Linked DNA regions of Homo sapiens. The protein of the gene in region 3 purifies or fractionates together with the protein of the main gene of each other region. This does not show direct contact. Each region holds a gene or a part of one and is shown on either strand. Other genes may lie near its edges. The genes, in order: IPO9, IPO11 and ADORA3.

Evidence for each region.
Region 1: the proteins of ADORA3 (region 3) and IPO9 purify together in Homo sapiens (affinity purification with mass spectrometry, with the first as the bait; 2 studies listed by BioGRID). This does not show direct contact.
Region 2: the proteins of ADORA3 (region 3) and IPO11 purify together in Homo sapiens (affinity purification with mass spectrometry, with the first as the bait; 2 studies listed by BioGRID). This does not show direct contact.

The regions. Positions count from the first base shown.
Region 1 is NC_000001.11:201,870,497-201,874,226, forward strand, and holds part of IPO9 (importin-9), read left to right. Parts: intron 1-86; coding exon 87-362; intron 363-664; coding exon 665-831; intron 832-2,331; coding exon 2,332-2,465; intron 2,466-3,730. UniProt on the Homo sapiens protein: Nuclear transport receptor that mediates nuclear import of proteins, such as histones, proteasome and actin. Serves as receptor for nuclear localization signals (NLS) in cargo substrates.
Region 2 is NC_000005.10:62,489,211-62,492,940, reverse strand, and holds part of IPO11 (importin-11), read right to left. Parts: intron 3,640-3,730; coding exon 3,592-3,639; intron 2,827-3,591; coding exon 2,721-2,826; intron 1-2,720. UniProt on the Homo sapiens protein: Functions in nuclear protein import as nuclear transport receptor. Serves as receptor for nuclear localization signals (NLS) in cargo substrates.
Region 3 is NC_000001.11:111,500,834-111,504,912, forward strand, and holds the start of ADORA3 (adenosine receptor A3), read right to left. Parts: upstream 2,801-4,079; 5' UTR 2,522-2,800; coding exon 2,172-2,521; intron 1-2,171. Other genes in the region: TMIGD3 (transmembrane and immunoglobulin domain containing 3), read right to left, coding at 2,172-2,521.

The DNA.
Region 1 (3,730 bases), about 90 Mb from region 3:
CTGGGAACATTTGTTTATACAGACTGAGGGCCTTCTGGCATCTGTCCCTCGATTACTAATCTTGCTTGCCACCCCTGTCTCCCCAGAATGGCGGAGAGTGCTTGCGGGCCTATGTGTCAGTGACCCTGGAACAAGTAGCCCAGTGGCATGATGAGCAGGGCCACAATGGACTGTGGTATGTGATGCAAGTGGTGAGCCAGCTCCTGGACCCCCGCACCTCAGAGTTCACTGCGGCCTTTGTGGGCCGCCTTGTTTCCACCCTCATCTCCAAGGCAGGGCGGGAACTCGGGGAGAATCTAGACCAGATTCTTCGTGCCATCCTCAGTAAGATGCAGCAGGCAGAGACGCTCAGTGTCATGCAGGTAAGAGAGCAGTGGGGAGTGGGCTTCCTACTCCCTGGCTGATAGAAATGAAAATTCGTATTTTGGTCCTGAGTTATTTTATTTTACCCTCTTACTAGCCTTGTAGGACAGTTAAGTAAAATGGGACCTGTCTGATCTGTTTGGCCTAAGAAACATGGACAAGGAAATCTCCCATGTTTTCTTGTCCTGTGGATAATACCCTCAGTGTAGACTGTATTTCTTATCTGACTGGCCAGTTCCCTCTCATCTCCTATGTCTCTGAAATTGATTTCCCTGAAGCAAATGTCCTTATTTTCTCCTAGTCCCTGATCATGGTGTTCGCTCATCTGGTGCACACTCAGCTAGAACCTCTCTTGGAGTTCCTGTGTAGCCTCCCAGGACCTACTGGCAAACCTGCTCTAGAGTTTGTGATGGCTGAGTGGACAAGCCGACAGCACCTGTTCTATGGACAGTATGAAGGCAAAGTCAGGTAGAACCTCATCTTTCTTTTCTGGGCATTCTGCCACCACTCATATTTCTTTTTTTTTTTTTTTTTTTTTTTTTTTTTTGAGACAGTCTCGCTCTGTCGCCCAGGCTGGAGTGCAGTGGCACAATCTTGGCTCACTGCAACCTCCACCTCCTAGGTTCAAGCAATTCTCCTGCTCCTGCCTCAGCCGTCCGAATATTACACACATGCACCACCATACCCAGTGAATTCTTTGTGTGTGTGTTTTTAGTAGAGAGAGGGTTTCACCATGTTGGCCAGGCTGGTCTTGAACTCCTGACCTCAAGTGATCCACCCACTTCGGCCTCCCACAGTGCTGGGATTACAGGTGTGAGCCACTGCTCCTGACACATATTTCTTTTTTTTCCTGATTTGCTCCATTGATTTTTGTTTGACATTTCAAATGGCTCTCTGTATTCCCTTTTCCCTGTCTTTCTTTATTGCTAACGCACATATGTGAATAGCTGCCATCTTGAAATCCCCAAAAGACAGTCAACACAGGTAGACTATATATTTCTGGTCTCTGTTTACAAGAGATCCCTTCTCTACCACAGACTTCACACAGCTAAGTGCTGCTAGTGGCTTATTTTCCTTTATAAGCCCAAGCCTTGGCCAGGCACAGTGGCTCACACCTATAATCCCAGCACTTTAGGAGGCTGAGGCGAGCAGATCACCGGAGGTCAGGAGTTCAAGACCAGCCTGGCAAACATGGTGAAACACTGTCTCTACTATAAATACAAAAAATAGCTGGATGTGGTTGTGGGTGCCTGTAATCCCAGCTACTCGGGAGGCTAAGGCAGGAGAATCGCTTGAACCAAGGAGGCAGATCACGCCATTGCACTTCAGCCTGGGCGACGAGCGAAATTGTCTCAGAAAAATAAAAATAAAAAACCCAACCTTCTAACCCTGGCTTCCTAACTTTTTATCCTGGATTTTTATACCACTGATTCTTATCACCTCGTTGCACCTTACAATATGGTGCAACCTTAGCTTTGTTCAAGAAGAACAGGTCACCTGTAATCCCGGCACTTTGGAAGACTGAGGTGGGCGAATTGCTTGAGACCCACCCGGGCAACATGGTGAAACCTGTGTCTACCAAAAAAATACAAAAATTAGCCAGGCACGGTGGCGCATGCCTATAGTCCCAGCTACTTGGGAGGCTGAGGTGGGAGGATCACCTGAACCCAGGGAGGTCAAGGCTGCAGTGAACCATGATCACACCACTGCACTCAGCCTGGGTGACAGAATGAGACCCTATCTCAAAAACAACAACAACAACAACAACAACAAAAAAGCACAGATCTCATTAAACCACCTCATGAACTCTAAAATCTCATTTTCAGCTGAACTCTCTTAGCTCTCCTAATTAGTTGTTAACGGAATTTTCACTATCAAATAGAGGGTCTTAGGACATAATTGCTTATCTCCTTGGAGTGAACTCGAGATGGGCGGCTGATTGACCTTTTTTTGGATCTTCCTTGCCAGCTCTGTGGCACTCTGTAAGCTGCTCCAGCATGGCATCAATGCAGATGACAAACGGCTACAGGATATCCGTGTGAAGGGAGAGGAGATCTACAGCATGGATGAGGGCATCCGCACCCGCTCTAAGTCAGCCAAAAGTGGGTGCTGCTGCGATTCTTCCAATCCTCTCCCTATACGAAGGGGCTAAGGATACCTGGGTGAAGGGAAGGAATGCACTGTGGTGTATATTTTTAAAACAATTGTTGGTGATGGGTTTGATAAAGAAGAAGCAGGAAACTTAGGTAAAAGGGATCAGAACATACGGTTTCTTCCTGTTGTGGAAAATGGACAAAAATAGGCCGGGCATGGTGGCTCACGCCTGTAATCCCAGCACTTGGTGGGAGGCCAGAGCGGATGGATCACTTGAAGTCAGGAGTTTGAGACTAGCCTGACCAACATGGTGAAATCCCGTCTTTACTAAAAATACAAAAATTAGCCAGGCATGGTGGTGGGCGCCTGTAATCCCAGCTACTTGGGAGGCTGAGGCAGGAGAATCGCTTGAACCTGGGAGGCAGAGGTTGCGGTGAGCAAAGATCGTGCCACTGCATTCCAGCCTGGACAACAAAATGAGACTCCGTCTCAAAAAAAAAAAAAAAAAAAAAATGCAGGCGTGGTGGCTCACACCTGTAATCCCAGCACTTTGGGAGGCCGAGGTGGGTGGATCGCCTGAGGCCGGGAGTTCGAGACCAGCCTGACCAACATAGAGAAACCCCGTCTCTACCAAAAATACAAAGTTAGCCAGGCATGGTGGCGCATGCCTGTAATCCCAGCTACTCGGGAGGCTGAGGCAGGAGAATCGCTTGAACCCGGGAGGTGGAGGTTGCAGTGAGCCAAGATCACGCCATTGCACTCCAGCCTGGGCAATAAGAGCAAAACTCTGTCTGAAGAAAAAAAAAAGACAAAAATAGTCTCAGGCACCAAGCATCCCAGCTTCCAGCTTCATTCAGAAGCGTGGGCACAGATAGTCAGCATGTCTTTGTTACTGAGTTGCCTTTGGCCTGTAACTCCAATGATTTGCAGGTAGGGAGTATAGAGCTGCTATCTTTAATGTAGATTTATAATTACCTCCGCTGTCTCTCAAATTCTAAGTCATTGGGACTGGAGTACTGGCTCTATACAGTTCCTTGGTTTCAGAGCTTTATTACTAACAAGACTGTATCTCCTTTAATCCCTGAACTCTCATCTCTCCCAGCTTCTGAACTGTTACAATACCAAACAATAAAGTTATTTAACTTTAAGTCACTCTTTGGAGACTGGATATAGTCAGGTACAGTGAAAGTCTGAGGGGTGGTGAACTCTGGTGAGTGGCACTGAGGAGAGGACAGGGGTACTTCCAGAAGTAAGCTCAGTGACACTCTGACTT
Region 2 (3,730 bases), on a different chromosome or scaffold from region 3:
TTTCTGGGTATAAATGAAACACTTTTTTTTTTCCCAAAAAATTGCAATTTTAAAAGATGATCAAGCACACAGGAAAAAACTGCTCATTAAAGTTGCAAAAACTGGGCCGGGTGCAGTGGCTTACACCTGTAATCCCAGCATTTGGGAGGCTGAGGTGGGCAGATGGCTTGAGCTCAGGAGTTTGAGACCAGCCTGGCCAATATGATAAAACCCTACCAAAACTACACAAAAATAGCTGGGCATGGTGGCACACATCGTGGTCCCAGCTGCTCAGGAGGCAGAGGTGGGAGGATCACTTGAGCCCAGGAAGCAGAGATTGCAGTGGGCCAACATCATGGCACTGCACTCTAGCCTGGGTGACAAAGTGAGACCCCATCTCAAAAATTAAATAACATAAATAAAGTTACAAAAAAAAGTATGTAAGTATTCCCTGCCCCCAAGAAGTTTATAACACACCTAAAGGAATTTAAAAACACAAAGTAGTGTACTAGGACTTTAGAAAAGGAAGAGAAGAAATGGGCAGAGACAGACGGAATCTGAGCAAGTCTTTGAGATAAACAATATTGGAGCCAAAGGGTGGAAAAATGTCATTTCAAGGGACAGAAACTGTTTGAACCAAGTGACAGAGGCAGAAGTAACAACTTGTGTAGAGTGAGGTAAAAGCACCAAAGAACCATCAATTTTGGGACTAAGACCATATTAGACTCTGTTCCAGATAAAGAATATGAAACTCAGAAAGGTAAAATTCCAAACTCATAGACACATCCAAACAGAAGTAAAAGTATAGATCACTTTGCTATTTAATGTGTGCATTGCTTGATTTTTCCCAGACCTACTAAGTCAAAACCTAAACTTTAACAAGATTACCAGGTGACTCATATGTACATTAAAGTTTGAGAAACACTGGTCTACATCAGCTTTGTCCATTAGAAATATAATGCAGGCCACATATGTTATTTTAATTTTTTAGTACCCACATTATAAGAGAAAAGAAACAAAATCTTATTCTTTGGGAGGCCAAGGCGGGCAGATCACGAGGTCAGGAGATCGAGATCATCCTGGCTAACACAGTGAAACCTCGTCTCTACTAAAAAAAAATACAAAAAAATTAGCCGGGCATGGTGGCGGGCACCTGTAGTCCCAGCTACTGGGGAGGCTGAGGCAGGAGAACGGCATGAACCCGGGAGGCAGAGCTTGCAGTGAGTCGAGATCGCGCCACTGCACTACAGCCTGGGCAACAGAGCAAGACTCCATCTCAAAAAAAAAAAAAAAAACTTATTAATATTTTTACATATCCCAATATATCCAAAATATCATTTCAACATGTAATCAATAAATATTTTACATGGCTTTAAATTTTAAATTTAAATTAATTAAAATTGGAAAGTTGTTGCCTCAGTTGCACTAAGCACATTTCAAGTGCTCAATAGCTACACGTAGGGAGCTTCTGCACTGGACAGTGAAGGTCTTACACTAAATAGCCTCTAGGGTTTAAGGACAACTAAACTGCACATTTGTTTCGCCAATGAAAGCTTTCTCTCCATCAAAGGCTCACTAGCTCCCTGAGACTAAGTCAGAGTCTATTTTATTTAACACCGCCTATAGGACATGGCAAATTCCAAGTGTTAAAAATATATGTTAACTGAATAAATGATTGAATAACTGAAGAGATAAACAGCTACTTACTGTTAAGAATTACTTTTAGAGTATCTCCAGCTCTACAAATTCTGTGGCTCTAAATGTGACCTATGCATTCATTAGTTTAGTCAACAAATATTAACTATCTATGACTATATGCTAAGTATTCTGATAGGCCCCAGGTATACTGAAGTGAATCAGTAGAAGTGTATCCTTCAAATTAAGAAAAAAGCCCCTTAGAATTTTTTCAAATTCTCCAATTTTAAACTAAGAAATAATTTTATAAACTATGAAAGAGGTTTTTCCTTTCATTTTATGCATTCAATACCTAAAATTTAAGTAGACAAGTGCTTAAATGTATATAAAACGTAAGAATTGGGCTGGCCAGGTGTGGTGGCATGCGCCTGTAATCCCTGCTACTCAGGAGACTGAGGCACAAGAATCGCTTGGACCTGGGAGGTGGAGGTTGCAGTGAGCTGAGATTGCACCACTGCACTCCAGGCTGGGTGACAAAATGAGACTATTTCAAAAAAAATAGAATTGGGCAAATGTGCTATTAAATGTACTAAATTAATTCATTTCATAATTCATATTACTAAATGTAATATGAATCTGTACTATTTAATTAGGTACCTCAATTAGAACTTAGAAAGGGTATTCAAATATTTTTGCCATGATGTCTCTATATCCTACTCTACCGTCTCCCCAGAGACTTGCAGTATGCATTATGTGATCCCAAGACATTCATCTTTCACAGATGTTACTTTGATTAGGCTACTTCTGACACTAGGCATACATCCTGCTAAGTTTCGAACTGTCTTTTTCTTAGGCATAGTTTCTTGAACTCAGAGACCTCCATCCTCCCTCATCTTTGCATAAAGTCCTCCTTTTCTCCTGCAAACTACCTGATATATCAAATACTTCCTAGATGTCAAAATTCTTATTCCTTTCCACATAAGACATTACCTAACTTATACGATTGCATTTTTTAAATTGTAAGCCATTTTAATGCCTTCCTGTCTTCATTAATAAAATAAATAAGGTAAAGTAAGTGTATAATAAATATAAAATTTTATACTTGCCTATTGTGAATGACTTGTAATTCTGGAAGAAGCTGGTTTTTAAACCACTGATCAAAATCAACACTGTCAAAGAGCTCATAAGCAGCTAATCCAACAGCATTATACACTGAGAAGAAAATTTAAGAAAAAAAATTAAAGGTTTCAGATATCAGATCTGCAAATGAGTGTATGAAACATATGTTAATTAAAGGAAACACACAATATGCTAATCAGGGAAATTATTTAAGTAGAAATAATTTAAGTAGAAGAAATAATTTATTTTAGAAACACTATTTTACTTCATGTTTTTCCTAAATATTCCTTACTACTTTCAAACAGATAATTCAATTCATTCTAAAATATTTAAGTCCAACTATAAAAATTATAAAATAATGCCTGCTTCTAAAATGGATGTAATATTTTATGATCTGGTCCCTACTTAACTCTCTCCAGCCTCAACTCAACCTTTAACCCCAATGTTCCAGTTAAACCAAAATAGTCACAATTCAAATTCTAACTGTGCTTCCTCCTCTTTCCTTCAAGTCTTTGTACTTATTGCTCCATCTCCCTGGAATGCAACACCCTCTTTCCATCACCACCTCCTCACACGTGTAACTCCTACTTATCCTTGTGTTCTTCCATTACACTTCTTTGGGAATCTTTCCTTAGACACACCAAACTATCTGGTGATCATCACCTACTTTAGCATTAACTATCCTGTATAGTATTATTATAATACATTATCTGTTTACTTGGTTATCTCCCCAATCAGATTGTTCCTGTATTTTAGTTACTCTTGTATCTCAACACCCTCAGCACAAAATCTACCACAAAACAGACTCTCCATCTACTGAATAAATAAATGCTTCTAAATCACTTAAGTTTAACATACCAGCATCTTTGATTAACAGTGCATTCATATCTTCCACATTTGTGGGTCCTAAAAAATATATATATAAATAGGTATCAGTAAAAGCAAATAAAACTAGTTTTTTAAAAAATTTATATTTAAACACAATTTGTTAGTTTCC
Region 3 (4,079 bases):
GATGTTGCCTAGAGTCAAGTGCTTACGTGCTCCACTCAGGGCTCCACTTACTGAGAGCTATACAACTGTTACCTATCTTTTCTTTTTCTTTTTTTTTTTAACTCAAAAACATCCACAGGTGAATTCAGCAGTTTAAGTCCCCCTTGAACTCAGTTTACTCCTTCTGTTCCCAATAAGGTGTAAGCCTAAGAATTATTCAGTTCCTGGGAGCTGAGATTCATCTAAGTCTCCTAGGATTGTCTGCCTGGTGAGAAATGATATTCTCAAAGCAAGCTTGCCTGCTGTTCTTGGCACTGTTCTGTTTGGCTGTTGTGCAGATTCTCATAAATTATACTATGCCTCCCCGACACTTCCCCTCTACCTGTGCCTGCTCCTGCTTCTCTATCTTCATGGGCATCCATACTTGGTATTTGAGTTAAATGAATCAATGAAGTTACAAAATTGTATTGAAGTGTTTCAGAGACCTTAAAGGACAGTAAGAGTAAGAGTCCCCATTGCTCCTTAAACTGTCCTTCCTGACAGCAGCCTATACAGACCACAAAAAGGAAACAAATATAGTTAAGTATCAGTAGATTTTTATCTCAATTAAATCTCACAACAAACAGGAGATATTTTATTATAACCTCAATTTTATTGATGGCAATTGTGAAAATAATAGTAATGATAGCCACCATTTATTGAGCACAGACTGTGTGACAGGTATGTTTCTAAAAGCTTTACATATGTTAACGCATTTCATTTTATGAGGATAGTGCAATTATCCCCATTTTGTAGATTAAAAAGTGAAACACAAACAAGTAACTTCTACAAGTTAGAAGTGGTGGGGCTAAAACTAAAACAAGGTAAGTCTGAGTTCCGAGCATCGTAACCACTGTGATACAGAGTGGAAACCAAAGGAGATAAAGTTAAACAACTTGTTCAAGATCAGATCTCTAATCTGGGATTTGAACCTAGACTGTCTACATCTAAAGCTTGTTTGTAGCTCCCTCACTCTGCTCTTTCCTCCAGAGAAGTGACGAGAAACACGAGACCAATGCAATTTAGGTCACCCGGGGAAGTAGATTTCTCCATTTGGCAGTTCGTTCTATTCATATGGTCACATGTAATGAAGAATATTTTTACGAAAAAAGCTCTCACATCTCAGGAGGAGGAGGAAAAATATACATATATATAGGATATATATATTTATTATATTATATATAGGATATATATTTAATATAATAAATATATAGGATATATATATTATAATAAATATATATAGGAGATATATATTTAATATAATAAATATATAGGATATATATTTAATATAATAAATATATAGGATATATATTTATTATAATAAATATATAGGATATATATATTATAATAAATATATAGGATATATATTTATTATAATGAATATATAGGATATATTTATTATAATAAATATATAGGATATATATTCATTATAATAAATATATAGGATATATATTCATTATAATGAATATATATAGGATACATATATTTATTATAATGAATATATATAGGATACATATATTTATTATAATGAATATATATAGGATACATATATTTATTATAGTGAATATATATAGGATACATATATTTATTATAATGAATATATATAGGATACATATATTTATTATAATAAATATATATATATTGGAATATATATATATTCCAAGAATCCCTTTCTCAACATTGAAGTAGGCACAGAATAGGAAGCAAAGATAAAATAATAACCTACATTTGCAAAACAACAGAACCATCAGTTTATCTCCTCTTATGTTTATCTGCCTGCTTCTCCTAAAATAATAAGTCTTATCTAGTAGGCTTTTATCATTTCTAAAACTGAAGAGCATTTTTTACTAATTAAAGATGCATCAAGATTTCATCATTTTTAGCCAAGGATTAGTAATTACAGCTGGAGGGATTGAGCACCCACCCCTAGTCAGTGGAGAAAGGATTGGAGCATTCCTCTGATTCTAGCTCCTGAGTCCCAGCCCATTGTTGCTAACCCCCTCACAGACCATATCACAAAAAGACACTTATTGCCCTCTTTCAACATCAAGGGCCAATTTGGATACATTTTTACTCAAAAAGTCTGGGCTCTGGGCTTTGTAGCCTCATTTCCCAGCTGCCTCAATTGCTGCCCACCCCACGCCGCAGGCTACCTGACGGTAAGCTTGACCCGCAAGTATCGGTCCACAGCGATGGCCAGCAAGGACATGATGGAGGCGTGGGTAAAGATAAGCAGTAGGCAAGTCATAAAAAGGCAGCTGTAGAAGTGGATTGTGATGCCCAGGCTGACAACAATGGCCAAAGGCATGACCAGCACCCCAACAGCAATGTCAGCCAGGGCTAGAGAGACAATGAAATAGAAGGTGGTGGTCTGCAGGCTGGGGTTCAGCTTGACCACGCAGATGACCAGCACGTTGCCCACTATGGCGCAGAGTCCAATGAAAATTTCCATGGTGATGTAGGTAACATTGGCCAATGACAGAGCAGTGCTGTTGTTGGGCATCTTGCCTTCCCAGGGGAACCTCCACAGGGACAGGTGAGCCAGCAAGATCCGTCTGTAGGGCCAGTGGGCCTAGCTCTCGCCAGACGTCTTCCCAGAGGTCCATGTGCAGTGACAGTCTAAAATTCCCAACTTGCTCATTCCTACCCTTTTCTGGTGGGGTGATCTCTTGGAAACCCTTCTCCTTAGAAAGGGCTCATCACAGGTGGGTCACTTCCAGCCCCTTTATGCACCGCACATCCTCAAGTTTCCAGAATGCTGTAGGACAGCTCTATATGGACTGAATCTGAAAGTGCTGCTGCTCTTAGTTCCCCAAACAGATGTCCTCAACGCCTCTGCCTGCAGCTTTTTGGCTTTTTGAGTTCCATCAAGATAAGCAACCCTCTTCAGGGGTGTTTCAGGAAGTGAGATGGGCCAAGAGGAAGTACAGAGCTCAGAACTCTCAGCAAAAAGATGGAAAGAGCAGAAGAGGAGCCATGAGTGGCATAGAGAAGGCTCGAGACAAGATTGGGTATCAGAGTTCATTCATTCAGGGACCAGAGGACAGTGCAGGATCAGGTGGGAGCAGAGCTGGAAGCACTGACTATGCAATCTTTCTGCCAGCTTAGCAAAAAGATCTCATGATAAGGAGGCAAACGGGAGAAGCAGAGGAACAAAAAAGAGACTTTGGTGGCAGCCTCCTAACCTTAGCCAGAACTATTCCTGCTAAGTTCTTGCACGAGTTGACGCTTTGCTGAGCACAGCCGATACCCAGCCTTTGCAGCAAAGATCCTTGGTCAAAGGGATAAGCAAAGATTCCCTGCTCAGAAGGGCAAAAACTCAGCACCTCTGAGAAGCATCACACCTGCTTAGCCTCCACCTCTCTTTCTCAGCTCACACCCTAGCAAAATCACACTGGCACTTATGCTGGCAGCCGGCCAATGTCCAACCTATGTGAGGAACGACAGAATAGCAGAATGACCAGACATACAGAAAGAAGGGAAAAGAACGTGTGCAACAGAATCAAATGGCATATCCTCCTGCCCACATTCCCCAAGCCTCAGCCCCATCCCCGCAGGAACAGGCGACTGTCTGGGAATCAGCCCCCTCTCCCTGAAGCTGCTTACCTAGTCACCAACTTCTGGGAACCAGACACTTGCACGCCATTGTTATTTGGGGACCCACTTGGTTCAGGTGCTTCTCAGCACCATCCAAAGGGATTATTTTAACCAGGCGTGTTAGAGAGGCAGCAAGAAGGAACACTTGGACCCAAACCCACACAGTGGCTTGAGGGCTTTATCATTTTTACCTTAAGCATCTAAATATGTACAGCCCAAAATAAAATTCAGCAGTAACAACAATGGCGTTCTGGTGTTTACTAACAAACACTTCAGAGTGGGGCATAAGGGAGACGCCTCTGCCTGGGGCTCATCAGGGTCCTCTTGTTAGTTGATCTGCTCTGGCATCATTCATTGATTCCACTCCCGACCCCCACCCTGTATCCCAAGTTGATCCAAGTCTTACCAAATCCCATACTTGTCCCCGCCAGACTTGTCATTTCTCCCTGAGCAGACTCCCCAGA